4 linked regions of the Homo sapiens genome follow. The protein of the gene in region 1 purifies or fractionates together with the protein of each later gene. This does not show direct contact. Each region holds a gene or a part of one and is shown in the gene's direction. Other genes may lie near its edges. The genes, in order: GSK3A, CRYBG3, PRUNE1 and PPP1R2.

Region 1 (7,026 bases):
GCCCCAGTCAAGGCTGGAATCTGATTCCCAAACCCTCTACCTTAACCATTTGGTTACACTTCTTCCCAGGAGAGAAAGGGACCTGGCAGGGCTAGCGCGGGTGGTTCTGAAGGTCGCGCTCTTCCCAGGTGTTTGGCCAGCGCAGAATGGAATGGAGGTGCCCTGTGAGCTAGGAGAGGCTCAGGGAACTAGAAGGAGATGGAGGAAGTGGAAGTTGAGGAATAATTGGTGTTTAAGGGCCTGGCATTTGGAGCTTAGACTAGTCTGGATGTAGGAGAACTGAGCCTAGACTGGAAAGGAACCAGACCAGGGCCTCGGTCTTGGCAGGGAGGGCCCTTGGGCAGGAGGAGCTCCAGGGTGTCAGAATTTGATTGGAGTTGAGTTCCAGAAGTAAGAGGGATGTAGGGGCAGGGAGTTCCTAGGCCTCACTGAGGAATAGAGAATGGGGAAGAATGCTGAGACCGCATTCTGGGAAAAGTCCAATGCCTGGAGTCTGGGACTCAGGATCCTAGATAGAGTTCGAGGACCCAGATGCTTCCACGGGACCAGAGTGAGCTGGATGGCCACTACCTGTCTGTTGTTGCTTGTGCCAGGTAGGGGGGCAAGCCTCATGTGCCCATGCCTGATTTTTTTTTTTTGAGATGGAGTCTTACTCTGTCACCCAGGCTGGAGTGCAGTGGCACGATCTTGGCCCGCTACAACCTCTGCCTCCCAGGTTCAAGCGATTCTTGTGCCTCAACCACCTGAGTAGCTGGGATTGCAGGCATGGGCCACTATGCCTGGCTAATTTTTTTTTTTTGTATTTTTAGTAGAGACAGGGTTTTGCCATGTTGGCCAGGCTGGTCTCGAACTCCTGACCTCAAGTAATCCGCCCCCACCTCGACCTCCCAAAGTGCTGGTATTACAGGCATGAGCCAGCATACCTAGCCCTGATTTTTCAAGACAAACTGAAAACTGGATTTAGATGTGAAATCTTTTTTTTTTTTTTTTTTTTTTTTTTGAGACGGAGTCTCATGCTGTCACCCAGGCTGGAGTGTGGTGGCGTGATCTCGGGTCACTGCAACCTCCGCCTGCCGGGTTCAAGCGATTCTTCTGCCTCAGCCTCCCTAGTAGCTGGGACTACAGGCGTGTGCCACCACTCTCGGCTAATTTTTTGTATTTCTAGTAGGGACGGGGTTTCACCGAGTTAGCCAGGATGGTCTCTATTTTTTTTTTTTTTTTTTTAAGACAGAATCTCGTTCTGTCACTAAGGCTGGAGTGCAGTGGTGTGATGTCGGCTCACTGCAACCTCTGCCTCCTGGGTTCAAGCGCTGCAACCTCTGCCTCCTGGGTTCAAGCAATTCTTGTACCTCATCCACCTGAGTAGTTGGAATCACAGGCGTGCGCCACCATGCCCAGCTAATTTTTTTGTATTTTTAGTAGAGATGGGGTTTTGCCACGTTGGCCAGGCTGGTCTCGAACTCCTGGCCTCAAGTGATTTCCCTGCCTTGGCCTCCCAAAGTGCTGGGATTACAGGGGTGAGCCACCATGCCCAGCTGTTTTTTATTTTATTTTTATTTTAAGGCTGGGTATGGTAGCTCATGCCTGTAATCCTTGAACTTGGAGAGCCCGAGGCAGGAGGATTGCCTGAGACTAGGAGTTCAAAACCAACCTGGCCAACATAGCCAGGTTCTTTTAAAAATAATAATAATAATAAATTTTATCTTATTTATTTATTTATTATTATTATTTTTTGAGACAGAGTCTGTCGCCCAGGCTGGAGTGCAGTGGCGCGATCTCAGCTCACTGCAAGCTCCGCCTCCTGGGTTCACGCCATTCTCCTGCCTCAGCCTCCCGAGTAGCTGGGACTACAGGTGCCTGCCACCATGCTTGGCTAATTTTTTTTGTATTTTTAGTAGAGACAGGGTTTCACCGTGTTAACCAGGATGGTCTCAATCTCCTGACTTCGTGATCCACCCACCTCAGCCTCCCAAAGTGCTGGGATTACAGGCGTGAGCCACCACGCCTGGCCCTGGCCTATCCTTTTTAAAACTTTATTTTGGAGAAAAAAATCAGAAGGTGCCATTTGGCTTTTACATGTCAGCAATAAGTTGAAAAAAAATTTTTTTTTAAGTGGGGTGGCTGGGCGCGGTGCCTCACGCCTGTAATCCCAGCACTTTGGGAGGCTGAGGCCTGTGGATCATGAGGTCAGGGAGGCTGAGGCAGGTGGATCACAAGGTCAGGAGATCGAGACCATCCTGGCTAACGTGGTGAAACCCCATCTCTACTAAAAATACAAAAATTAGCTGGGCGTGGTGGTGCATGCCTGTAATCCCAGCTACTTGGAAGGCTGAGGCAGGAGAATTGCTTGACCCAGGGAGGCAGAGGTTGCAGTGAGCCGATATTGAGCCACTGCATGCCAGCCTGGCAACAGAGCAAGACTCTGTCTCAAAAAAAAAAAAAAATGGGGTGAAGAAAACACATCTGTGGCCTGGGTTTAACCTGTGGGCTTCCAGCTCCTGTGGGAGGGGAATAGTCTGGAGACAAGGAATTGGGGGATACTCCAGGGGACCTTGGAGCTGGGACACAGGGAGTAGCTGCCTGGCTGTTGTTGGGAGTGAGTGTGAGTAGGGAGGAGCAGCCGAGAGAGTTGGTTGTATTCTGAGACTCTCCCTTTGCCCTCAAGAACCGAGAGCTGCAGATCATGCGTAAGCTGGACCACTGCAATATTGTGAGGCTGAGATACTTTTTCTACTCCAGTGGCGAGAAGGTGAGATCTCGAGGTGGTGGTGGTGGGTTGCTCCAGCCATTTTCCTGCCTGCCTGCCTTTCCCCCACTGCTCCCTGCATACCTTCCTTCCCCCTCCTCACTCTTCTCACAGTGCCTCACACCTCTCCTTTGCTCCCTGCAGAAAGACGAGCTTTACCTAAATCTGGTGCTGGAATATGTGCCCGAGACAGTGTACCGGGTGGCCCGCCACTTCACCAAGGCCAAGTTGACCATCCCTATCCTCTATGTCAAGGTAGGCCAGCAGGTGGGCTGCTGGGACCCAGGCCCACAAAGCCAGGGGCTCTGGAGCCTCCTGCCTTTTATGGGATCCCTCATCCGCCAAGTTTATGTTGGTTTTTGGAGGCCCCATGTCCCCTGCTGTTGTTCCCATAACCCCCCGAGATGGAGCTCGCCTAACACAGGGGAGGGCCAAGGCAGGCAAGGCCTGACTGAATCAGGAAGGCAGCCTGACACCTGGGGTTGCAGAAGCTGCCAGGTAGTTGCTCAGGTCCATACAGGGAGTCCAGTGGCACCAGAGATGTTGGAGTTAGCTCAGGATAAGGGGGTGGTGGGGACCAGGACTGCACAGAGACAGCTGCTGAGGCCAGAGTTCGGGCCTTTAGAGCCTTGGCTGGGGGTAGGTGGGAAGGAGTTAGGGCTGGAGGAAGGTTAGCATCCACAGAGCCAGGAATGCATCTCCGTCCATCATCTGTGCAGGCTCATTCCCCAGTGCCTGGCATCGTGCCCTGGGTGTTACAGACCTTCAGGAGGTGTTTGAATGAATGAATGAATGATTGCAGCCCAGGGATGATGTGGCGAACAGGCTGGAGCAGCCTACTGCATTGGAAGGAGGTGGGTGGGTTTGTTTGCTGAAGGTCACTTGGGGCCCAGCTGCTGCTCCTGCTGGCTTTACGTACCAAGCACGGGTGAGCCGACGTGGGCTCTACCAGTGGTTGTGGCTGTTGGACCTCACTTCCCAGGAGGGGAGCTCTCTGGTTTGGCGAATCTGTCCTGTGGCTGCCTGCATACGGGTCCCAGGGCTGAGGAATTCCAGAGGCACCACTGACTGCGACCCAGGCCTTGGCCTTGAAGAGCTCTCAGTTTGGTAGGGTAGAAAGGCGTCATCACAGAAAACTATTAAATGAACTAGCTGCTGCCATACCAGAAGGAGCACAGGGAATTCTGGAAATGGAGGAAGCACCCAGCCTGGTTTGTGGGTGAGAAGGATCAAGGAAGGCTTCCTGGAGGAGACCAAGCACAGGGCAAGGAAGTGGCATCTTTGGCCGAGGGGAACTGGAATAAAAGGAAGGGGGCCTAGGAAGCAGCCATGTCAGGACCTGGTCTGTCTAGGCCCTGGGGGATGCAGCAGTAACTGAAACTCAAAATCCTGCTCTCACGGTACTTCTGTTCTAGTCAGTGGGAGGGAGAGTGGCAGGAAAATGGAGCTGGAGAGGGGGCAGGCTCAGGGGTGGTTTTGATTGTCGGATTAAGGAGCCAGTGGTTTTGGTGAGGGGGAAGCTGAGTGCCTGGCTCCCTAGCCTGTTTTATGACAACCTCCCGATGTACCTTACTCATCAGGCTTCTGCCAAGGGTTGTGATTAAAGCAGTGGTTCTCAGAGTGTGGTCCGGGGACCAGCATCAGTGCTGGAGAGCTTGTTGCAAATGCCTCATTCAGAACTCACTGATCAGAAACTCTAAGAGTGGGGCCCAGCAGTCCCTTTTTTTTTGTTTTTTTTGAGACAGGGTCTCTGTCACCCACGCTGGAGTGCAGTGGTGCGATCTCGGCTCACTGCAACCTCCGCCTCCTGAGTTCAAGTGATTCTTCTGCCTCAGCCTCCCGAGTAGCTGGGATTACAGGTGTGCACCACCACGCCCGGCTAATTTTTGTATTTTTAGTAGAGACGGGATCTCAACATGTTGGCGAGGCTGGTCTTGGCCTCCCAAAATACCGGGATTACAGGCGTGACCCGCCACGCCCAGCCAGTAGTCCCTGTTTTAACAAGTCCTTCAAGTGATTGTGGTGCACATTAAGAGAACCAAGGTTTCAAATGGGTTTCCCCAAAGCTGTGGGGGCAGCAGGGAGAGTGGGCCTGGAAGGGCTCTTCAGGCCAAGCTGGTGGGGTAGTGGTGCTGTATGGGGAAAGCTGGGCTAAAGTTCTGCTATCCTGTGCCCGCCGCAGGTGTACATGTACCAGCTCTTCCGCAGCTTGGCCTACATCCACTCCCAGGGCGTGTGTCACCGCGACATCAAGCCCCAGAACCTGCTGGTGGACCCTGACACTGCTGTCCTCAAGCTCTGCGATTTTGGCAGGTGGGCCTGGGGCATGTTGGGTGGCTGAAGAGGCAGGGGGGACCCCAACCCTTGCCTCACGTGTACCCCTGCCCATCTCTTCCCACAGTGCAAAGCAGTTGGTCCGAGGGGAGCCCAATGTCTCCTACATCTGTTCTCGCTACTACCGGGCCCCAGAGCTCATCTTTGGAGCCACTGATTACACCTCATCCATCGGTCAGAGTTATGGGAGGGTGGCGGGGGGAGTGGCAATCTGGGAAGTTTTGGAGTTTTCTGTGTGCTGTATGCCAAGCTTGGTGATGAAAGCTTAACTTCTGTTCTTGTATCCAGTCCTCACAAACTTAGGAGGCTGATGCTGTTGAATGCTAATTTTACAGATGAGCTTAGAGCTGTGAGGCCGCCTGCCCGCACTGGCACCACTAGGACTGGGCAGGACTGGGATTTGAAAGCTGACCTGACTCCAGAGTCCATACCAGCTCTGGAACCTCCCTGTCAGCCCTCTGTTCTCAGCTAGGGGGAAGGGCTGCTGGAGACCTTGGGGGAACCGGGAAGCAAGGCTTTGCCACCATGAAGGTGCAACTTGCTCCCAGGGCCTCTGTGTCCTTCCCTGTTTGTGGGGACAACTGCCATTTTCCAGGCATGAGGGGAAGTCTGAATTGAGGGAATGGGCATGAGAGTTTGAAAGGGCACCTTCCACAGCAGCATGACGAACTGTGGAGTCCTTAGGTATGAACTCGTGCTGTGGGGGTCAAGGTACAAAGCAGGGAGGGGTGAGACTGCCACGCTGCAGCTCTTCTCATGGGCAGGAGAGAGGCTGGAACAAGAGGAAGGCAGTCCAGGATTTAAGGCTGTACCTTCCTGTGGCCCAAAGAACATGGGTGCCTGTTGGCAGGTTTGGGCCTAATTTGGTCTGTCGTCCAAGGCTAGCGGGAGAGAAGGAGCTCATTGGGGTCCTTAGCAGAGAGAGGAACTGAGGGCTGGAAACACACCTAGACTAGAGAGTACAGCAAAGGCAGGGTCAAGGTCGGGCCCATGTTTCTAAGCTGCATGTGACCTTGGGCCAGGTGCTTTGTCTTTGAGAAAACGGGGCTCCTGACACTCTTAGGATGGCCATGAGGAATAAAAGCATTGGGAGGTTGGTGGCCCTACTCGCCTAGCCCTGACGCTCCCTCCATTTCCCCTCAGATGTTTGGTCAGCTGGCTGTGTACTGGCAGAGCTCCTCTTGGGCCAGCCCATCTTCCCTGGGGACAGTGGGGTGGACCAGCTGGTGGAGATCATCAAGGTGAGGGGCGGGGCTGGGCTGGGCAGGGGGTGGGGCTGAGGGATGGGGCCCTTGTCTCAGACCCCTCCCTCTCTTTACAGGTGCTGGGAACACCAACCCGGGAACAAATCCGAGAGATGAACCCCAACTACACGGAGTTCAAGTTCCCTCAGATTAAAGCTCACCCCTGGACAAAGGTGGGGCAGGGCTAGGGGCTCAGGGCAGTATGGCTGAGAGCTGGTCCCCCTTGGAGGTCAACTGTTCTGTGGACCTAGCCTCAGAATCACGGCTTGGGAGGATTTGAAGAGTTATCCAGGGATCAATAACATCCATCCGCTTTCAAAGTTTATGGCATTTTAAAAGTTGAGAACCCACAAGTAAATTCAAGATTCCAATTTTTATGGAGGGTCAGCAGGGCTCATATAGTCCCAGACCTGGGCTGCCTGCTTACCCGATACAAACTGACCTCTCCTTAGTGGTTGGGCCTTAGTTTCTTCATTTGGAAGGTGGGGGTGTGGGAAGCAACCAGTCATAACTTGCCGCAGGCACTGTGGCAGTGAGATAACAGGAGTATGCCAGTGTCCAGGGCATCTCACCCTCATGAGCCCTGCACCCATCCCTCAGGTGTTCAAATCTCGAACGCCGCCAGAGGCCATCGCGCTCTGCTCTAGCCTGCTGGAGTACACCCCATCCTCAAGGCTCTCCCCACTAGAGGCCTGTGCGCAC
Region 2 (7,026 bases), on another chromosome or scaffold:
TCATTTAATTTAGTTTGCCATTTACATAGTAGGGGGAGTGAATTAGGATGCGGATATCTTGTACATTTTAACCAATTTGTAAGATTGTATCTAAAGTCAACATTGGATTTCAGTTTTCAGTCCAAAGCCTCATTGGCCATGTTCACTTTTCGTGGAAAACTAAGATACTGTAAGTTCTGTGGCAAACCTTGGTAACAGGAATGAACTTTGATACTGTACTAGTTTTAATTTCTAAGCATTTGGATATTCCCCTCCCTACTTATATAATACTCAGGATGGATCCTGGCAATTTAATTAAAATAAGTATTTATTGCACACCTACTGCTTGTCAGTCTTCTGTTCAAAAGCTTCCCACTGCACTTAGAATACAATCTACCCGCTACCCCACCTTGCTTCTCCAACCTCATCTTTCACATGGTTGTGTCACAGGCATCAAAGTACAGAGTGGTTTCCCACTAAGACTTTTAACATGGGCTGCACCCTCTGTATCGTGTTCTTCCCTCATTCTTTATTTGACTAGTCATCCCTGTAAATTCTACTTAAGTGTCAGGTCCTCAAGAATGCCTCCCCCACCTTCTCTCCCAATCTACATTAGATCATAAAAGACCTGGGGGTTCTTTTTCTACAAAAACACTGTATGCAGTTTATAACCCTAGCGTTATGGTTGGATCGGGGTCTCTCCCACTCTATAGAAAACCCTGTGAAGTCAAGGACTGTCCATGTTTTGCTCATTGCTCTACCCCTAGTGCCTGAAACAATATCTGGAATATTGTAGGAGCTGAGGAACTATTTATTTAATGAAGGAATGAATATATCAGTGGATGGATCAATGATATTATGCAAAGTATAATGGAAAATATAAAGATAGATGCGATTTCTGCCAATATTATTAAAGCTTACATTTTTGTTGGGTAAAACATGTCCAACTCAAAGCAGTAACATAAAATGCAAAACAATGCATAATTATCCAAAAGCCACAGGCAGTCCCTGGTTCAGAGAAAGGAAGTATCAACATGTGTAGGAGTAGTGGGGAGGTTTCATGGAAGGTGGAAAACCCAAGTGAAACTGTCAGGGGTGTGATGGCCCGTGGATATGGCATTAGTACCTCTCTCTAATCTCTTTAGAACACTTTCTTGCTTGATTCCAACAACAGTCCTTTGAGGTAGGAATTATTATCCCCATTTTCTAGTTGGAATAATAAGGCTCTGAGAGAAGAATAAGGCTCCATCTGGAAAATGGGGATAATGATTCCTACCTGTGACAATAAAAGCACATCAAGTGTCAGAACCAGGATTTGGACCCAAATCTACTATGCTTTAAAATCTGTGTTCTTAAGCAACCACACTCTACTTTCCATCAGCCTAAGATCAGCACTTAGAGAGTACCACCTATTTCAGGCACTGAGCTGAATATAGCCTAGTGGATCTAAATGCTGAGGCTCTGATGTTCTGACCTGACACTTATTTAACCCTTACTTAAGTGTTAAATAAATGGTAGCCAATAAAATATTAACCTAATTGGTCTTCTCTCACCCTCTTCACATGCACACATGCACACATGCACACACACCATTCTCATCCCACCACTCATGAGTTCTGTTGGTTCAAATCCTGGCTCTGCCATTTGTAAGCAGTGCAGCTTGGTGAGTCACTTCATTTCTTGGCACCTTAGGTTTCTCACTGGTGAAGCAGTGATCACATTGCTTACATCTCATTGCTGTGACGGTTGAATAAGATAATGTATATGAACAGTCTGATATGGCTCTGGCTCATATTACTATGGTAATACACTTATTTTGAAAATTTTTTATTATTATTATTATTCACAATGTCCCTTGAGATGCTCTTTTGAGGGATACTGAAACATTAATGGCTTTCCTGGCACAGAGTGTGTGGTAGACGATCTCATGACCTTTACATCTTGCTTATTCCCCACTCCTATCATGTGGAACAGGGAGTAAGCCCACTGAAAAGCCATCAGAAAAAGCAAAGTAGAGATAGGAATTCAGTTTAGCTTTTACTAACTACATAATAATGCTGACCCTCTGTTGTTAGAGACTTTAGTAGCCAAGTTCAACAATGAAAATATGTTCCTCATTTTTTAATGGTGGTTCCTTGTTGGGGAAGAAGGATGTCCCTGCCTATTGTTCAAGATTGTCTGGTAAAGGATAGAACAGCCACCTCTACTTTTACAAGGAAGTTTTTTTTAACAAGAATAGTATGCTATTTTCTTTCACTGTGCGTTAGGAGCTACCTGATTCCTATTCTGATTAAACATTTAATTTCAAAATAATATTTTAATAGATTATTTTTCCTTTTGTTTATTTAGGTCACAGTTTTGAAATCCAACAAAGGAATTCTGAGTTTCTAAAATAGTAGTTTGTGGGTCACATTTAAATTTGTGGTAAGGCTGTTGGTACTGCTTTGGTTCATATTCTTGTTTAGAAATTCAGGACTAATTAAAATGTGATCCTCTTTGAGGCTGGGAATTAGGAAGTCACTAAGGTACTTATAATGTATATCAGTGTTTTTAAGTATAATTACAGAGCAGTCAGACTACAAATGTGTAATAAGGGTAATTAGTACCTTGCCTGAGTTAATTGATTAAAACTGTGATGTCTGGTCCTAAAGTAATTGGAACTCTGTCATCTGTGAAGGTCACGCCTGTTTTCTTATATGTACAAGGTAATGAAAATGTAATAAAGATATACTGAAGCCTCAAGAATTAATAATTGCAGTAGATCCGGCTGAATTATAGACATTTAAGTACACTACTGTTGCATTGTTAATGTTGGAAGTAGGGATTTGAAACATTTAAAACATTTTGCCAAGTAGAGAGCTTGTTCGCCTGGTTTAAATGGCCAGATAATTTGTCCTTCTATTGGCTTAAGTGCTGAGAATGTGTATTTCCTTAGGAAGGTTTAATTACCAAAATTCAGTTAGCTTCACGTTGATCTATCAAGTTTCAAAAACAGTAGACTGTTCATTGGTTCTCTTACCATATGACCTATTGCATTTACCTAAGCACTTATGTTTCTTAGCATGAAAGTGCTCTCTTAAGAGACCATTTGTTATTACTCAGCCAGGGTTCTAATTGGGATGGCAATGAGAAGAACCAAAGGTGGGGATGTTGGGTGTCATGTTGGGTGTCATTTATTACATTAAGGCTGGAGGCCTAAGTCATAGGGCTGAAATAATGGCTTCTGTTGTGCTTCCATTATGTGCCCTGCTCTTTCATTGTCCTACACTGCCACCTTTGGAATTCGTCTCTTATTCCCTGTGCCTAAGAGCAACTAGTGCATTTCAACATAGGTCTGAGAGCATCCTGGTTAAGAGGAACCTGGCTTCTTTACATCTGTGTTCACCTTATTTGTAAAACTAGGGTATAATTGTACTTTCTTAATAGGTTTTTGTGGTTATTCTGACAAATAACATAATGGCACAGAATGCATTTAGCATGCTGCTTACACATACTACGTGTTCAATAAATATTAGCTATTCTCCTTAGAGGCAAGTCCCAGGTTTAATATTTTAAAACTTTTTGTATGTATCTTAAAACTTCCAGGCCAAGGGGATGAAGTCCTTTGTTACACAATTTTTGAGTACCTAAGTATAGTCATTAAACATACATGGTCTCTACTTTTGAAGAAATAAAGGTCTTATATAAACAAATAATCACAGCTACTAGTGCCCTCAGCTATCTGGGTTTTTCAAGACCTCCCAGGGCCAACTTATGGCATTTAGTCATAGCTCCACAGTATGTCTTTCTGAAGTTTTTAGAAAATCCTTGTAGGTAATAACTCCCCTACCTCCCTCAGCACAGCTGGGACACACTATTGAATGAAACTCATCAAGTCCCTAATTCTTTACCACCCCACTCCTCACCACATGGAATTCTAGTGAAAGAAACTTTTACTTCATGCTGTTCAAAAGGGCACTTTTCACAAAGTGTAATAGAGACTGTACAATTTAAGCTTTATGCTCCACGGCCTAAGGATTTACCATATTAATCTATGCAGATTTACTAAAGGGAATAAGAGTGAAACTGATATAACTAAGATAGTTACCTCTCACTTTCCCTCCCAGCTTTCCTCCTCTGGAAGGATTCATTTCCAGATTCAAAAGTTTATTTCTAAATGGCTGTTTCTCCTGTCATAGCCTGCAGTGTACATCAGAATAAAGAACCGTGCCCAGGGTGAATATCTGACAGTCACTGGAAGTCTAGCAGACACCAGGGCAACATCTGTGTGCATTTCTCCCTATAGTGGAAAGAATACTCAGATCTGGTACTACTGCCGAGGACTCTTTAAATCCAAGGTAAGCAATCCCACTGATACAGTATGCCACTTTCTGGTCTGTTTTTTATTTTGAAAACTAGAATCCTGTCAAATCAACTGGCATGATAAAACAATGCAACTTCTTAGAAACAGGTGTTGATTATAAAAATACTGCCATATATTACTAAAACATTTATATAAAATTAACTTAATTTTTTGAACAAGAAAATCCAGTTTCAATTTTTAAGTAAACACAAAGGTTATCACATATTATGGATATACCTAAGTGATTTTTTACAACCAATGGTATAAGTCACCAGATCTAAGTTGGACAATGTGCTTTTGTAAGATGTTCCTTACTTGATGGCCCAGATAAAATCAGCCATCTCTGTGATTCTAAATATGTTGAAACCTTTCATTTTCAAAGTATACAAAGAAGCAGTAGAAGAAGAAAGCTGTTATTGGAAGAAGCTTAGAAAATAAAATTTAGGGTTCTTTTCTATGACCCTTCCGTTATGTTTAATGCATTGGGAATAGAACACTACTTTAAAAACATTCAAACTGTGTTTTATTGTATCACCAATGGATTATCTACTTTTTCTCATGCTTCAAAAATGAAAAACTTTTAAAAGTAATTATTGTCTGGATATCTTTAGCCCATCATGCAATGTTTTCATAAGAAAACCAAGCTCAACATAATACGTTTTAAGCAAACAGGGATTTAACATTTAATTCCAATTCACCAAATCTTTATTGAACATCTGTTGTCAGATGTAGACATCCTATTAAAAACAAGTACCTCTATTTCAGTTGGTTTATTTCTGTACCATCTCCTACCCACAGCCGTAAAGAAGACATTAAAAAAGGCTTACTGAAATTATACTATATAGTATTTTTTTAGATAAGACACACACACACTTCATGTCTATGACTTGTTTACCTAAGATAAAAGGGACCTAATTCAACTTACTTTAGCAAACATACTACTGCCAATTAATCATTTCTTAACCCTTTTAGGCCAGTGATACATGTCTTGATGTGATTGGTGGCCGGGACACACCTGGAGCTAAAGTAGCTCTATGGACTGAACATGGGCAATTCAGGCAGAAGTGGAGACTGAATAAAAATGGAACTATCAGCTCTTATCTCAGTGATCAACTTGTCCTTGATGTTAAAGGTGGGCCTTTGATGATACCCAATGTTGTGTCCCTGGATATTAGTTTCAGTTCCAAATCTCCTCATTTTGGGTAAAGGACATCCTTATGTATAAGAGAAATGTTAAGTCATTTAAAATTATGCTTGAAGAAAATTAAGATAGGCAGTTTTACAAACAAAACAATTAGCAGAAAAAGCCAAACAACAAAGCTTAGGGTTTTTGTTCATTAGTACAGTTGTAAAACTTTCATTTGCTACGTGAACTCAGAACAGTTCTAAATTTCAAGCACCATAAACCATGAAATGAATGTCATCTGTTTCTTAGAAACATCTCTAGCTTTTTGCCAGGAATTGCCATGGTCCTTAAAAACCCTCAGGTAGAATTTATGGTAGGTATCAATTAACCTTGTTTTTGAATTCAGCAAGGTCAGGGCCAATATTATTCATGGCTGTTGCTTTAATTGGGTTAGTCACAGTTTTGTTGGTGTAGAAACAAAAACACAGTACCTGACATTCAGCCAGAGTTCTCTCAAGAGCACTTTGTTCTAAAGAATCACATTAAGGCACGCCACTTATACAATCATGTATTATACCTTTTAGTATTTCAATTTGAGTCATAATAAGGTCCAATTTGAGGTGAATAATGGCTAAGCCTGTTCAAACTCAGCTTCCCATTTCAGACTTCTTTGTAAATGACACATTCATCCACCGAAATGGTGAGCTGAACAGAAGCTTGTGAAAATTGTGAAATTGCTAAGCACCTGCCTGAACAAATAATCTTTTCTTTTGGAATTTCTATTTTAGGAGGAAATTATTGTGACAAGACTCATGTAATTGTAAATCAGCCCCTGGAGGGAGAAGAAACACAGAAATGGGACATTGAAATATTGTGAGAGAATCAACATCCCTAGAAAGATCCCTAGAAAGAGCAAAGAAGGAAACACATCTGTCATTGTCTTGTGGACGTGGAAAGGAAGCTACTGTCCTCACACTCCTGGATCACTGAGCAGAATGAACATTTTCTCCAGCCTCTGAGACTATCGCTCTTAACCATGGAAAAGCTCAAAATATTCTTGCCATTACTCAGTGTTCCTATAAAGAAAATATTATGATATCTTGGAAAGGTTCTATTCCTGATCTCCAGCTGTGGTGAGCAAGTTTCCTGAAGTGTTTATTTTCTCTCATATCCACCAAACGTGAATCCTGTTCCTGATGGCCCGTTATTGGACACTGGTGATGCTATTATCCTGTATTATTTATTAATATCCTACCTAGATGCTTGTATGAGTACAAAGCATAAAGAAACAGATTTCTATAGGTCAAGTCATACTTTTGCAAACAGATGAGTAATTTTTTAGCAACACCTGAAAATATACTAAACTTTCCTAGATAAACTTTAAGGTTTCTATACTGAGGCTTTTATAATGAACGCACCTCGTTAAGTATTTATACTTGTAACTAACCCCAGGCAGGGACCTCAGCTTTGTTAGGAATAAGGCACAAGAAGTATTTTCTGTAGCTATTGTTTCCTCAGTCCTTCAAACTAAAAAAGTACAAATAAATAACCTATGGCCAAACTTGCACTGTTACGTGTT
Region 3 (7,026 bases), on another chromosome or scaffold:
TGATACCTTCTTTTCACTTTCCTATCTAGACAACTGAGGCTGAGGAAGTCTTTGTGCCAGTTTTAAATATAAAACGTTCTGAACTACCTCTGCGAGGTGACATTGTCTTCTTTCTTCAGAAGGTTCATATTCCAGAGAGTATCTTGATTTTTCGGGATGAGATTGACCTCCATGCATTATACCAGGCTGGCCAACTCACCCTCATCCTTGTCGACCATCATATCTTATCCAAGTAAGCACAAGGAAATTAAATTGCTACCTATCATGTACCATGCTGGGCTCTGATGAGTGAGATATAAAGAGAGGAAGAAAGAGTTTTTGCTGGCTGGGCATGGTGGCTCATGCCTGTAATCCCAGCACTTTGGGAGGCCAAGGCGGGCGGATCACCTGAGATCAGGATTTTGAGACCAGCCTGGACAACATGGCAAAACCCCGTCTCTACTAAAAATATAAAAATTAGCTGGGCGTGGTGGCAAGTGCCTGTAATCCCAGCTACTTGGGAGGCTGAGGCGGGAGAATCACTTGAACCTGGAAGGTGGTGGTTGCAGTGAGCCGAGATCGTGCCACTGCACTCCAGCCTGAGCGACAGAGCCAGACTCCGTCTCAAAAAAGAAAGAGTTTTTGCTTTCAGGGATCTCATAGGCTAATCATAATTGATAGGTCATATTAGATATAGAAAAACAACACAAAATATTGTCAGTTCTGCAGTTATATGTATGTCTGTGGCATATAGACATACCCTATAATAAAAAGAAATAGAACGTGTTGAGTTCAAACTAAAGGGTAACTCAAAAATCATTTAAATCTGCCTTTGGTATCATTATTTAAGATTTTGTGTGCCGGGTGTGATGGCTCACGCCTGTAATCTCAGCACTTTGGGAGGCCAAGGCAGCCAGATCCATTAAGCTCCAGGAGTTCAAGACCCGCCTGAGCAACATGGCAAAACCATGTCTTTACAAAAAATTTTTAAAAATTAGGCACGGTGGTGCATGCCTATGGTCCCAGCTACTCGGGAGGTTGAGGTGGGAGGATCACTTGAGCCCAGGAGGTCGAATCTGCAGTGAGCCAAGATCACACCACTCCACTCCAAGCCTGGGAGACAGAGGGAGACCCTGTCTCAAAAAAAAAAAAAAAAAAGATTCTGAGACAGATTTATTGTAATAGAAACCTTTGAAAAATGTTTGCAATTCTCTTTTTATTTTTTTACTTATTATTTATTTTTGTACTTACTTATTAAATTTTTTTTAGAGAAGAGGGTCTTGCTATATTGCCCAGGCGGATCTCAAATTCCTAGGCTCATGCTATCTTCCTGCCTCTGCCTCCCTAAGTGCTGGTTTATAGGTGTGAGCCACCACACCTGGCCTGCAACTCTATTTTTAATTTTAATTTTAATTAATTATTTTTTTTTGAGATGGAGTCTTGCTCTGTCACCCAGGCTTCAGTGCAGTGGTGTGATCTCGGCTCACTGCAACAACCTCTGCCTCCTGGGTTCAAGCGATTCTCCCTGCCTCAGTCTCCTGAGTAGCTGGGATTACAGGTGCGCGCCACCATGCCCAGCTAATTTTTATATTTTTTACTGGAGACAGGGTTTTGCGCTGTTGGCCAGGCTGGCCTGGAACTCCTGACCTCAGATGATCTGCCCACTTTGGCCTCCCAAAGTGGTGGGATTACAGGCGTGAGCCACCACACCTGGCCTATTTTTAATTTTTAAAAAGTGGCCTGGTGTGGTGGCTCACGCCTGTAATCCCAGCACTTAGGGAGACCTGTCTGACCACTATAGCGAGACCCTGTTCTCTAAAAAAAAATAATAAATACAAAAATCTATAAACATAGTGTGACCTTGTCTCTACTAAAAATAAAAAAATTTGCCAGGTGTGGTAGTGCATGCCTGTAGTCCCAGCTACTTAGGAGGCTGCTGAGGTGGTAGGATCACTTGAGCCTAGGAATTGAGGCTTCAGTAAGCCATGATCACATCACTGTACTCCAGCCTGAGTGACAGGGCAAGAACTTGTCTCCAAAAAAATTTTTTTAAGTTATCAAAAGGGCCAGGTGTGGTGGCTCACACCTGTAAACCCAGCACTTTGGGAGGGTGAAACAGGAGGGTTGCTTGAGCCCAGGAGTTCAAGACCAGCTTGGGCAAGATGGTGAGATCCCATCTCTACAAAAAAATTTAAAAGCACACAAAAAGTTAGCAAAAGTTTTTCTACATAAACTCTTACGATTTTAGAATAATGTATTATGTTAGAATATATAAATATCTCAGGCCAGGCGCGGTGGCTCATGCCTGTAATCCCAGCACTTTGGGAGGCTGAGGGGGGCGGATCATGAGGTCAGGAGATGGAGACCATCCTGGCTAACATGGTGAAAACCCGTCTCTACTAAAAAATACAAAAAATTAGCCGGGCATGGTGGCGGACGCCGATAGTCCCAGCTACTCGGGAGTCTGAGGTAGGAGAATGGCATGAACCCGGGAGGCGGAGCTTTCAGTGAGCTGAGATCATGCCACTTGCACTCCAGCCTGGGCGACAGAGCAAGACTCCATCTTAAAAAAAAAAAAAAATAGCTGGGCGTGGTGGCTCGCGCCTGTAAGTCCCAGCTACTTGGGAGGCTGAGGCAGGAGAATCGCTTGAACCTAGGAGGTGGAGGTTGCAGTGAGCCAAGATCGCGCCACTGCGCTCCAGTCTGAGCGACAGAGTGATGCTCTGTCTCAAAAAAAAAAAAAAAAAAATTAGCCAGGCCGGGCGTGGTGGCTCACGCCTGTAATCCCAGCACTTTGGGAGGCTGAGGCGGGCAGAATCACCTGAGGTCAGGAGTTTGAGACCAGCCTGACCAACATGGAGAAACCCCATCTCTACTAAAAATACAAAATTAGCCAGGCGTGGTGGCACATGCCTGTAATCCCAGCTACTCAGGAGGCTGAGGCAGGAGAATTGCTTGAACATGGGAGCCAGAGGTTGCGGTGAGCCGAGATCATGCCATCGCACTCCAGCCTGTGCAACAAGAGCGAAACTCCGTCTCAAAAAAAAATTTTTTTTAATCTATAAATATCTCAATAATGTCTGTTTAACAAATGTACACATTTATAATAATTCCATCCCTAATTTACTACTGGAAAAAACTACCAAAAAAGCAACACGATTATGTGACTTTCCTAAGTCTGTTTGGCTCCTGCTAATATTTTTTTCTTGAGCACATTGTGGTTATAGCAGGATACTGACAGAAGGCAGCCTGAGAGAGCATTATCCATCTATGGATTCATTCAGTAATAAACTTTCCTTTTTTTTTCTTTTTTTTTTTTGAGACAGAGTTTTCTCTTGTTGCCTAGGTTGGAGTGCAATAGTGCAATCTAGGCTCACTGCAACCTCCGCCTCCCGGGATAATTTTGTGTGTGTGTGTGTGTGTGTGTTTTTAGTAGAGATGGGGCTTCACCATGTTGGTCAGGCTGGTCTTCAACTCCTGACCTCAGGTGATCCGCCCACCTCGGACTCCCAAAGTGCTGGGATTACAGGTATGAGCCACCGTGCCACCACCTTTTTTTTTTTTAAGAGATGGTGTCTCTCTCGCTCTGTCTCCTAGGCTAGAGTACAGCGGCATCATCATAACCTTGAGCTCCTGGGTTCAAGGAATCCTCCCGCCTCAGCCTCCTGTGTAAAAGCATCATTCCTGGCTAATTTTTTTTTTTTTTTTTTTGAAACTGAGTTTTGTTCTTGTTGCCCAGGCTGGAGTGCAATGGCACCATCTCGGCTCACTGCAGTGAGCCTCCCAGATTCAAGTGATTCTCCTGCCTCAACCTCCCAAGTAGCTGGGATTACAAGCATGCGCCACCACACCCAGCTAATTTTTTGTATTTTTAGTAGAGACGGGGTTTCACCATGTTGGCAAGGCTGGTCTCAAACTCCTGGCCTCAAGTGATCCGCCCGCCTCAGCCTCCCAAAGTGCTGGGATTACAGGCGTGAGCCACCACGCCCGGCCTGGCTAATTTTTTTTTTTTTTTTTTAAGAGACGTAGTCTCGCTCTGTCGCCCAGGCTGGAGTGCACTGGCGCGATCTCGGCTCACTGCAAGCTCCGCCTCCCGGGTTCACGCCATTCTCCTGCCTCAGCCTCCCGAGTAGCTGGGACTACAGGTGTGCCCGCCACCACACCTGGCTAATTTTTGTATTTTTAGTAGAGACAGGGTTTCACCGTGTTAGCCAGGATGGTCTCGATCTGACCTCGTGATCCGCCCGCCTTGGCCTCCCAAAGTGCTGCGATTACAGATGTGAGCCACCATGCCCAGCCTTTATTTTTTATTTTAAATATATATATTTTTTTTTTATGGAACAGTTCACAAATGTGCATGTCATCCTTGCTCAGCGGCCATGCTAATCTTCTCTGTGTCATTCCAATTTTAGCGCATGTGCTGCTGAAGTGAGCACTGATCTCAGTCTTGAAAGAGGACTAGGTGTTTGCTTGGTGAATTGGGAGGGAGGAGGGAAGGTGGTTAGGAAAGGCATTCCAGGCAGAGGGAGTAATTAATAGAATCAAATGCAGGCAGGCGTGAAATAGCATGGTGAGCTAGGGGAAATGGAATTTGTTTTGCACAGCTGGAGCATAAAATTTGAGGGAGAAGTAGGACATGGAAAAAGATGAGACAGAGGGGGCAGGCAGGAGGCAGATTATGGAGGCCTCATAGGCCCTTCTAAGGTGATTGGATTTTATTTTAGGCCGTGGGGAACTATTTTAAATTATATTCTGGGTCCTAAAAGAATCAGATTTTCTTTTTTCAAATGATCATTCAGGCCACTTTGTGAAGGACAGCCCAGGAGGGCTCTTGGTTGGAAGCAGGTGATTGGTTAAGAGACTACTGGAATAGTCCAGACGAGAGATATTGAGGGCCTAGAGTGGGGCAGTAACAGAGAGTTAGAAACTAGGGCATGGATAGGAATTAAGATAGAATTCACAGGACCTGGTGACCCACATGGAATCTAAGTATTGAGTGGGTTATAAAAATAGGAGAGATTTGCTGGGCGCGGTGGCTCATGCCTGTAATCCCAGCACTTTGGGAGGCCGAGGCGGGCGGATCACGAGGTCAGGAGTTCGAGACCAGCCTGGCCAATATGGTGAAACCCCGTCTCTACTAAAAATACAAAAATTAGCTGGGCCTGGTGGTGGGCGCCTGTACTCCCAGCTACTTAGGAGGCTGAGGCAGGAGAATTGCTTGAACCTGGGAGGCGGAGGTTGCAGTGAGCCAAGATTGCACCACTGCACTCCAGCCTGGGCGACACAGCGAGATTCCGTCTTAGAAAAAAAAAAAAAAAGGAGAAATTTAGATGTTGGGTATCAAGGGTGTCAAGGGTATAGGGTTGGAAAGGCAACGCTAAAGGACAGCAAATGTGGGGGTAAGATATTTGCAGCAGATGCTTCACAGAATTTGCTTATACACTATTTAAAGATGACTCCAATTATAACATTAAAGAAAAGAATTGCTGGGCGCGGTGGCTCACGCCTGTAATCCCAGCTCTTTGGGAGGCCAAGGCGGGCAGATCACGAGGTCAGGAGTTCGAGACCAGCCTGACCAACATGGTGAAACCCCATCTTTACTAAAAATACAAAAAAAAAAATTAGCCGGGTTTGGTGGCACGTGCCTTGTAATCCTGGTTACCCAGGAGGCTGAGGCAGGAGAATCACTTGAACCCGGGAGGTGGAGGTTGCAGGAGCCGAGATCGTGCCATTGCACTCCAACCTGGGCAACAGAGTGAGACTCCGTCTCAAAAAAAAAAAAAAAAAAGAATTGAGAGGAGTTAGGCAGAGGTAAAAGTAACCAAAGGTCAGTTTTAAATGCTTGCCTGGCAGATCACCTGAGGTCAGGAGTTTGAGACCAGACTGGCCAACATGGCGAAACCCCATCTCTACTAAAAATACAAAAAAATTAGCTGGGCATGTTGGCAGGCGCCTTTAATCCCAGCTACTCAGGAGGCTGAGGCAGGAGAATCGCTTGAACCCGAGATGCAAAGGTTGCAGTGAGCCAAGAACGCACCATTGCACTCTAGCCTGGGCGACAAGAGTGAAACTCCGTCTCAAAAAAAAAAAGACATCTGCATTTTCCTTGATGTGTGGGGTAGAGGTTGGCTAGAAGCAGCTGGAGTGTCCGTACCTATCTTTCTTCCTCTTTTCCCATACCCTCCCCTCCACAGAAGTGACACAGCCCTAGAGGAGGCAGTAGCAGAGGTGCTAGACCATCGACCCATCGAGCCGAAACACTGCCCTCCCTGCCATGTTTCAGTTGAGCTGGTGGGGTCCTGTGCTACCCTGGTGACCGAGAGAATCCTGCAGGGGGCACCAGAGATCTTGGACAGGCAAACTGCAGCCCTTCTGCATGGTAAGGGTGGCTTTTGGATTGGGACCTCAGTAGTTCTATTCCTGTCCCTGAGAAGGGAGGGTGGAAAAGTCTAGACGCTTCCAGCCTAACCATATGCTCTCAGAGCCATTCAGCTCATACCAAAAGATAGGATTCTTTCAGGGGACAATTGAGCATGTGTTTAAAGGCCTGTGGGATACTTGTTGGAGAAAGTAGAAAGGAAGTGCAGGGCAACAGACCAAGAAGCTTCCTATTGGCATCATTTTATGATGGAAGGAGGATTAGCTAAAGAAGCAGGAAACAGATTCCAATACCAATTCCTCCAGGAAATAGGTGACCTTGAGCAAATCTCTTAACCTTTCTTGTTCTCATTTTTCCACTTGTAAAAAAAAAGAGAGAGAGAGTGAGTTGGACTAGACTGTCTTTTCCAACTTAGAAGATTCTTTGATGGGATTTGGCCTACTGAAGAGGTGTATCTCTGTCTGACTAGGCTGTAAAATCTCCAAGGTTTGAGATGCTCAGGCTTTCTTTCTACCTTTTCCCCATTTCCCTTCCTACATTTTAGTTTGGATTTGGGAGGTCTGAGGACACTGTCCATCCCAGTTTCTCATTTTGCTTTCAGAGATTTTGCTATACAAATCTCCTTGTGTGTGTCCATTTGGTGTGAAGGTTATATATGTTCTGGTGGT
Region 4 (6,847 bases), on another chromosome or scaffold:
ATCAAAGCCTATACTCCTTATCCCATTATGAGTTCATAGAATAACAAAATGCAAGATAATTTGGCAAAATTGACACAATGAAATTATAATACACAACATTGCTCCCTTGCTTCTTGCAATAATAAACCAAACCAATTAACACTTACAGAAAATTTACAGTCACAAAAGACTGAGTGATTTCTGGCAGGCACAAGGTAAATTCATAGCTTAGCCAAAAAACTAACTCATATTTCCTACTTACCATTCCAAGGTTTGTTACACTGCGTGTCCTGCCTTCTTCTTTCGTTTTTGCCTCACAGGTTCTGAAAGAAGTAATTGCCTAGAGTCTCTGAATTTAACCAGTTTTTAAAAGGATCAGGAAACATCTAGGGACTAATGAAATCTCTGTGTACCCTAGGGGGGCCTATGCTCTGTGACTCTTCTCAGAAAAGTATTTTGGCCACTTGGTAAGGTTAAGGAATCCTTTCAGTAGATGTCTTTGAAGAGAAGAGAAACAGTGGAGCATTCCATGGTTGCAAATCAAAGCCATTTTTTTTAAGCAGAAAAATGATTAATCTTTGTCCTTGGCTTTTTCTCTCTCTGAAACTTTCTGTTTTGTTTAAATGATCTTGCCCCTGCTACCATGAATTTCTACAATGTATTTAATATGACAAAATCTGTGATCTTCTCTTTCCGGGGAGGGATTACCTGAAAAGGAAAAGAACAATGTGCTATTCTTGGCAAGAAAAGAGTTGCTGCTGACTCAGTGGTCATGAAGTCACAACTTTTGGGAATTTTTCCAGATGTTAGGCGGGGGCACTACCCACTTCTCTACTCTGTGGACCTAGCTGATGACTCAGGCAGGCTGGGTGAGCCAACCATGGAAGCCACTGTTGCTTTGGAACTCTGTCCTTGGTGGGAAACCCAATGGTGGTGTCCATAGTCGTCTGTTCCAGTGAATGGAGAGCCAAATGACTCAGCCACGTGATGGGGTACAATAAAAGTGTCCCCTCTCCTCCTCCAAATATGTTGTGTTGGGTCAGGCAACCATGATAATGAAGTCTTCAAAAAGAGAGCAGAGATAAATGCCAGATTATCCTTAAATCATGTATATATCTTTAAATATATGATTTGCCTTGAGCTCAATAGCTACTTCCAGAAACTGAAACCAGAATGAAAGATTCTATCTACAATTCACCTCCTGGCAGCCAAACCCTCAACACACAGGAAATGTAACAGCAATACAGCTAAATTCAGTGCTCGGGCTGTTTGGTCCAGATAACTTCCTACAGGAGCAAACCTCAGCAGAGGCACAGAAGGAGAGCTCTGTTTAGAGGCATTTGAAAATCTTATTTGGGCCACACTGAGGAATAAAGTAGTTCAACTATTCTGAAAGATAAGGAAAAGCAGGCCATGTGTGGTGGCTCATGCCTATAATCCCAGCACTTTGGGAGGCTGAGGCGGGCAGATCACCTGAGGTCAGAAGTTTGAGACAAGCCTGGCCAACATGATGAAACCCCATCTCTACTAAAAATACAAAAATTAGCTGGGTGTGGTGGCAGGCACCTGTAGTCCCAGCTACTCGGGAGGCTGAGGCAGGAGAATCACTTGAACCCAGGAGGCAGAGGTTGCAGTGAGTGGAGATTGTGCCATTGCATTCCAGCCTGGGCGACAGAGCAAGACTTTGTCTCAAAAAAAAAAAAAAAAAAAGCAGTACTGGCCCTCACAATTTTACAAACTATTTTTTTTTAAGTGCTACCAAAGTCATCTTCATCTGCATTCATTTGTTGTGGGTTTGGGAGTGGAAGAACCAGTACAGGAGACAAAAGTTTAACTCTTGATGAGGGAAATATGTTTCCAAGGTTCTTCAGAGAACTCTTCATCACCTCCTGTTCCAATGTTTGTTAGTTAATTAACTAATAAAACACTTTATGTCATACGATCGTAGTCCCTTTCATTAGAGGGTCTGAAAGCAAGCTGTTGCTTAATCAAGGGCCCAGTCACAGTTGAGTTCAGGGATGCTGAACTCAGTGATGCTTCCCAGCCCAAGCAGGAACAAAGCAAATCTGCCCAATAATTTGGAACATACAGGGAAGTTTGTGTATTCCCTTGAAAACAGGATTGCCATCACTGACCTAGACTCCTGCTGACAGGGCAGGAGACGCAACACAGGTGTTGAACACTGGGGTGGAAAGAACTCAGGAAGGGAAGGGAGGTGGCCATCCTGCTTCCCCTCGCTGAGAACCCTCTCTCTCTGCTCCATGGGCTGGACAGGGCTGTCAGGGTGTAATGTTAGATCCACTGAGCAGTCCTGGCCTGGGAGGGAGAGACGGCACCAGTGGATATTTGACTGGGAACAAAGGTGGGGACAGTGCCAACAGTGACTGTGCAGGCCCCTGGCTGAGGCAAATCCCTGGGGAACACATTCCACTCTGTGACCAGCAACCCTGTTTCCCTTCTCCCCTTCCAGCTCACTTCCCCTCCATTATCTCCATCCACATCCATTCCCATACTGAGGCCCTGTTCTGTGCCAGGAACTCATCTAGGAGCTAGGGGCTCGGGGCCAGACGATAAAAACAATCGTTTTCAGAACCCTACAGTCATCCCTGAGGGGCAGAGTCCTAAGGACACAGAACAGGGTCATCCTCAAAAGGCACAGAGCCTGTGTTAAAGAAGATGAGACTGTGGTCCAGAGATGAGCCATGGGAGTGAAACTGCTGCTATAGGGGCTAGATAGGGGAAAACGCTTCCTCTCACCCCCCACAGCAGTGGACAGACATTGCTGGGAGCGAGGTGTCAGCTCAATCTAAGAACTCCCAGAGTCAGAGCTGTCCAAAAACAAAATGAGTTACACGGGGGTGTGGCGGGCTTCTAGCCCCTGGGGTTGTTGGAGAAACAGGCTGAATAGCCACCTTATGGGCCTGCTTGACAAGGTCCCTTCCAGGACCAGTGGTCTGTGAATCCGCAGGGGCTGGTCCACCGGAGGGGCCAGTTCTGGGTGGCTCAGTCTGCTGTGCTCTAACCTGTGGTGAGGACGATAAAAAGGCCTGATCAAGAAAGAGTCATGGAAAAGAGCCTGGTGATGAGCGAGCTGCGGACTGGACTTGGGAGAGGGAGGGAAGGGAGTGTACAGGGACCATAACAAATACCACACACGAGGTGGCTTTAAGCAATGGAAATGGGCTCTCCGTTCTGCAGGCTTGAAGTCCACATCAACCTGCGGCAGAGTTGGTTCCCTCTGTGGGGGGAACCTGTCGCGGCCTCTGCGGGCCCAGGAGGTCCTTGGCTGGGAGATGTGTCCCTGCCGCCCTCCCGTCTCCTGCGCTCTCTGCCTAGACGGGTTGTGCGACGGCGGGGGTCGCTGCCCGTCTGTCCGTCGGCTTCTCCAGCGGTAAAAGGAGGTGAGGCGATTCCAATGCAGACATTCTATGATTTCATAATAGGCCTCTAAGGACCACTCCAATGCTGGCAGTCCATGCTTTTATAATAGGCAGTTCGGCTGTTTACACGGGCGAAATGGAAAGAGGAGATACCCGTTTTCTTCAAGTCAGCTAACCTCTCTGCGGAGTGACGTCACCTCGAGTCTCAGTCTGCTGATCTAAAAAATAAAAATAACACTACGGCCTCACAAGGTGGTGGGACGAGGGTGCTCGAGAGACGCGCGGGTCCGGGAAGCAGCAAGCCCGGGCGCTCTCCCGCAGGTTCTCAGAGACAGCTCCCGCCTCCCAGCGCCGCGCGGGGGCGGGGCGAGCAGCCCGGGCGGGACGGAGGGGGCGGGGCGAGGAGGTCGGCTTTGTTCTCGCCCCGCCCTCTCCCCGCCTCCTCCCTAGATATCGCGAGAGGGCGGGTCCGCTTGGCTTCGGCGTCGCGTCGCTCCTGCGCTGGAGCTCTAGGCCGGCGTCTCTCCGCGAGCCGCGGGTCAAGTGCCAGTGGCTAAGGGTGCGCGAGTAGCCGCCACCCGTTCGGCGTTGGCTCTGGCGTCGGGGTCGTTGTGTCGTGACAACCGCTGCGGTAGCCGTTTCCGAGGCAGCAGTTGCGGCCGCTTTAGCCCTGAGCGGGATCTGCGGCTGCCTGCGAGTCTCTGCTGTGCCGACCCTTCTCTTCGCGGACCCCACGCCAAGCAGCGACCCTGAGCCGACAGCCGGAGCGCCCGGCAATGGCGGCCTCGACGGCCTCGCACCGGCCCATCAAGGGGATCTTGAAGAACAAGACCTCTACGACTTCCTCTATGGTGGCGTCGGCCGAACAGCCCCGCGGGAATGTCGACGAGGAGCTGAGGTGAGCGCTGGGAGGGACGGCCTGGGAGCCCCTCCTTCCCGCCGGGCCCGTTACCTACCCAGACCCCAGGGGCGGGCGGGCGGCGTGGATGCGGCTCGGGTGCCGCTCGAGTCTCTTCTCCTGCCCGGCTAGCCGCGGGTGGGAGCGATCTTTAAGAAGGCTGGGCGATGACGTTTATCATGCTTCCTTTTTTTTTTTTAAGCATTTGGGCATATATAATATTTTTAAACATCATCTTTGAACTTTCTGTAATCGGGAACATCAAAGAATGAAATTGAAGCTTCAGATCTTCGACTGTTAAGCTTTTACTATTTCTTAACCTCATCTCTGAGGTATCTAAAATTCTTCGATAATTACAGTGTATTTTCTTGCTTTGGGAACCCTTTAAGATCTAGTCTCAAGCTAATAGGCGATCCGTCAAAGAAGAGACCATTTCCCCCATTAGCATTGTGCCACACTGTATTTCTGCATCTGCAACCAGAGTTTTGGGTGCTTTCTAGTTTTTGTTCCTGTTCAGAGATAGATCTAAGCTCAAAACAGTTCAAAGAGGAGCAACTTGAAATGACCCAGTGGTAATTTAGTTGCTCTTGCATACGCTAAAGATACACATGTAAAAAGTTGTTGACCTGAGCATTGTATGTAATATTTATAATATAATTGGAAACGACCGGAAGTCCATTAGTAAGAGCTGGTGAAATATTAATTACGGTACGTTTGTATAATGGAACAATATACTAGCCTTTAAAAAAAGAAAGGTAGGCGTTTATGCACGGAGAAAATGTTGCAGTACAGTATCTGTAGTGGGTTAGAAGTGCACGGGGGCTTGGGCGTTGCAAGATACTAAAAATAGAAGGACTCTACTTTCTGAAAATAAGGCTTAAGAAAAGTTACCATTGAAATTGGTAGTCAGAAGCTAAAATGAGGATGTTTGTGAAATCTCAGAATATAGGAACCTAGGGCATTCCTGGATAAAGGATCTTATTTAGGACCATAAAAGGAACTACTGCTTGGTGGTGGTAAATTTTAGGGATTTGTGTTACCTTGAAGGAAATATTGAGTAGGTTCATAGGTTAGAATCGTGGCCTTTTGGGGCTGGAAAGGACCTTAGTTTTTGTCTAGCAACTCCCACGCTCATGGATGCTTGAATCTTACATTCTCTCACACACAATTTTCCAACTTCTTTGGGCTAAGCCACGTTAAATGGAGTGCTGGGGGAGTGTGATGTGTAGGTCATGGAATTAAGAAGACAGAATTTCACCAGAACATAACTGAAGCAGGAGAACCAAGTTAGTTAAAAGATAAATAACATCCAGGCGTGGTGGCTCACGCCTGTAATCTCAGCACTTGGAGAGGCCAAGGTGGGAGGATTGCTTGATCCCAGGAGTTTGAGACCAGCCTGGGCAACATAATGAGACCTCATCTCTTAAAAAAAAAAAAAAAAAAAAAAAGGAAAGAAAAGAAAAGGAATTAAAAGATAAGTAACGTAACTACAGAAGGCTCAAATGTAGCTTCAGGGTTTTCAGCAGCAGGAATGTGGTCCTTACTGGCATTTATGTTATTTAGCTGTTCTCCAGTGTGAGTTTCTTTTGGTCCATTTACCAAGTGAGTTACTCTTTATCTCTGCTTCTTTAGTTTCTGTTTATTCTTAACTTGGATCTGCTGTAATTTCCCGTGGGCCCAATCTATGGATTGGCCTCTTTCTTTCTGTAATTGGTTGGGATTTACATTCAGGTCTTTCTGCCTCAAAAGCCACTATACTAGACTGACTCAACTGCATAGGGCTGCCTCTTCTGTAGTATCTGTGGCAGGGTAGATTCACTTAAAAGGGACTGACCTGTCGAGTTAGAGTTACAGTCCTGTCTTTAAAGAGAACTATCAAACCCTAATTCATTGAAGTTCATGATGTTTGGTTCCAAGTGGTAAAAAGGATGGGTTTTTTAATGATCCTTGTTATGTGACTGTAAAGCAAATAAACTAATTCTACTAGTAATACAATATAGTCTTAGTCTGTTTTCTGTTGGTCATAACAGAATGTCTGAAATGATAATTTATAAGAAACTGAATTTATTTCTTACGGTTCTGGAGGCTTGGAAGTCCAGGGTCTTAAGGGTGCATCTGGTGAGAGCGTTTTTGCTGGTGGGGACTCTGTGGAGTTCCAAGGTGGTGCAGGGCATCACATGGCAAGGAAGCTGAGCGTGCCAGCTCAGGTCTCTCTTCCTCTTCTTATAAAGCCACCAGAACCACTCACTTGATAACCCATTAATCCGTGAATAGATTAATCCATTCATCAGAGCAGAGCCCTCATGACCCAGTCACCTTTTAAAAGCTGTGCCTCTCCACACTGCCACATTGGAGATCAAGTTTCAACGTGAGTTTCAGAGAGGACAAACGTTCAAACCATACCAAATATACATTATTATTTGTCACAAGTCATGCAAACTTTATGAGATCCTCTTTGAACAGAAACAATAAATATACAGTTGGCCCCCTCCACAAATTCAGCCAATACCAAATAGCCCTTTACACTTGGGAGCCATTTTACACACCAGATTCACCAACAAAAATGCAGGAAAGGACCCTAAATAGGCCA

What was found.
Region 2: the proteins of GSK3A (region 1) and CRYBG3 purify together in Homo sapiens (affinity purification with mass spectrometry; 2 studies listed by BioGRID and IntAct, with this or other methods). This does not show direct contact.
Region 3: the proteins of GSK3A (region 1) and PRUNE1 purify together in Homo sapiens (affinity purification with mass spectrometry; 3 studies listed by BioGRID and IntAct, with this or other methods). This does not show direct contact.
Region 4: the proteins of GSK3A (region 1) and PPP1R2 purify together in Homo sapiens (affinity purification with mass spectrometry; 5 studies listed by BioGRID and IntAct, with this or other methods). This does not show direct contact.

Annotation. Positions count from the first base shown.
Region 1 is NC_000019.10:42,232,581-42,239,606, reverse strand, and holds part of GSK3A (glycogen synthase kinase-3 alpha), read left to right. Parts: intron 1-2,665; coding exon 2,666-2,749; intron 2,750-2,890; coding exon 2,891-3,001; intron 3,002-4,928; coding exon 4,929-5,059; intron 5,060-5,147; coding exon 5,148-5,254; intron 5,255-6,223; coding exon 6,224-6,321; intron 6,322-6,401; coding exon 6,402-6,497; intron 6,498-6,924; coding exon 6,925-7,026. UniProt on the Homo sapiens protein: Constitutively active protein kinase that acts as a negative regulator in the hormonal control of glucose homeostasis, Wnt signaling and regulation of transcription factors and microtubules, by phosphorylating and inactivating glycogen synthase (GYS1 or GYS2), CTNNB1/beta-catenin, APC and AXIN1.
Region 2 is NC_000003.12:97,936,991-97,944,016, forward strand, and holds part of CRYBG3 (very large A-kinase anchor protein), read left to right. Parts: intron 1-4,157; coding exon 4,158-4,316; intron 4,317-4,827; exon of another isoform or gene 4,828-5,293; coding exon 5,294-5,453; exon of another isoform or gene 5,454-6,235; coding exon 6,236-6,324; 3' UTR 6,325-7,026.
Region 3 is NC_000001.11:151,018,438-151,025,463, forward strand, and holds part of PRUNE1 (exopolyphosphatase PRUNE1), read left to right. Parts: intron 1-29; coding exon 30-232; intron 233-6,173; coding exon 6,174-6,358; intron 6,359-7,026. UniProt on the Homo sapiens protein: Phosphodiesterase (PDE) that has higher activity toward cAMP than cGMP, as substrate. Plays a role in cell proliferation, migration and differentiation, and acts as a negative regulator of NME1. Plays a role in the regulation of neurogenesis.
Region 4 is NC_000003.12:195,540,314-195,547,160, reverse strand, and holds the start of PPP1R2 (protein phosphatase inhibitor 2), read left to right. Parts: upstream 1-3,835; 5' UTR 3,836-4,135; coding exon 4,136-4,257; intron 4,258-6,847. UniProt on the Homo sapiens protein: Inhibitor of protein-phosphatase 1.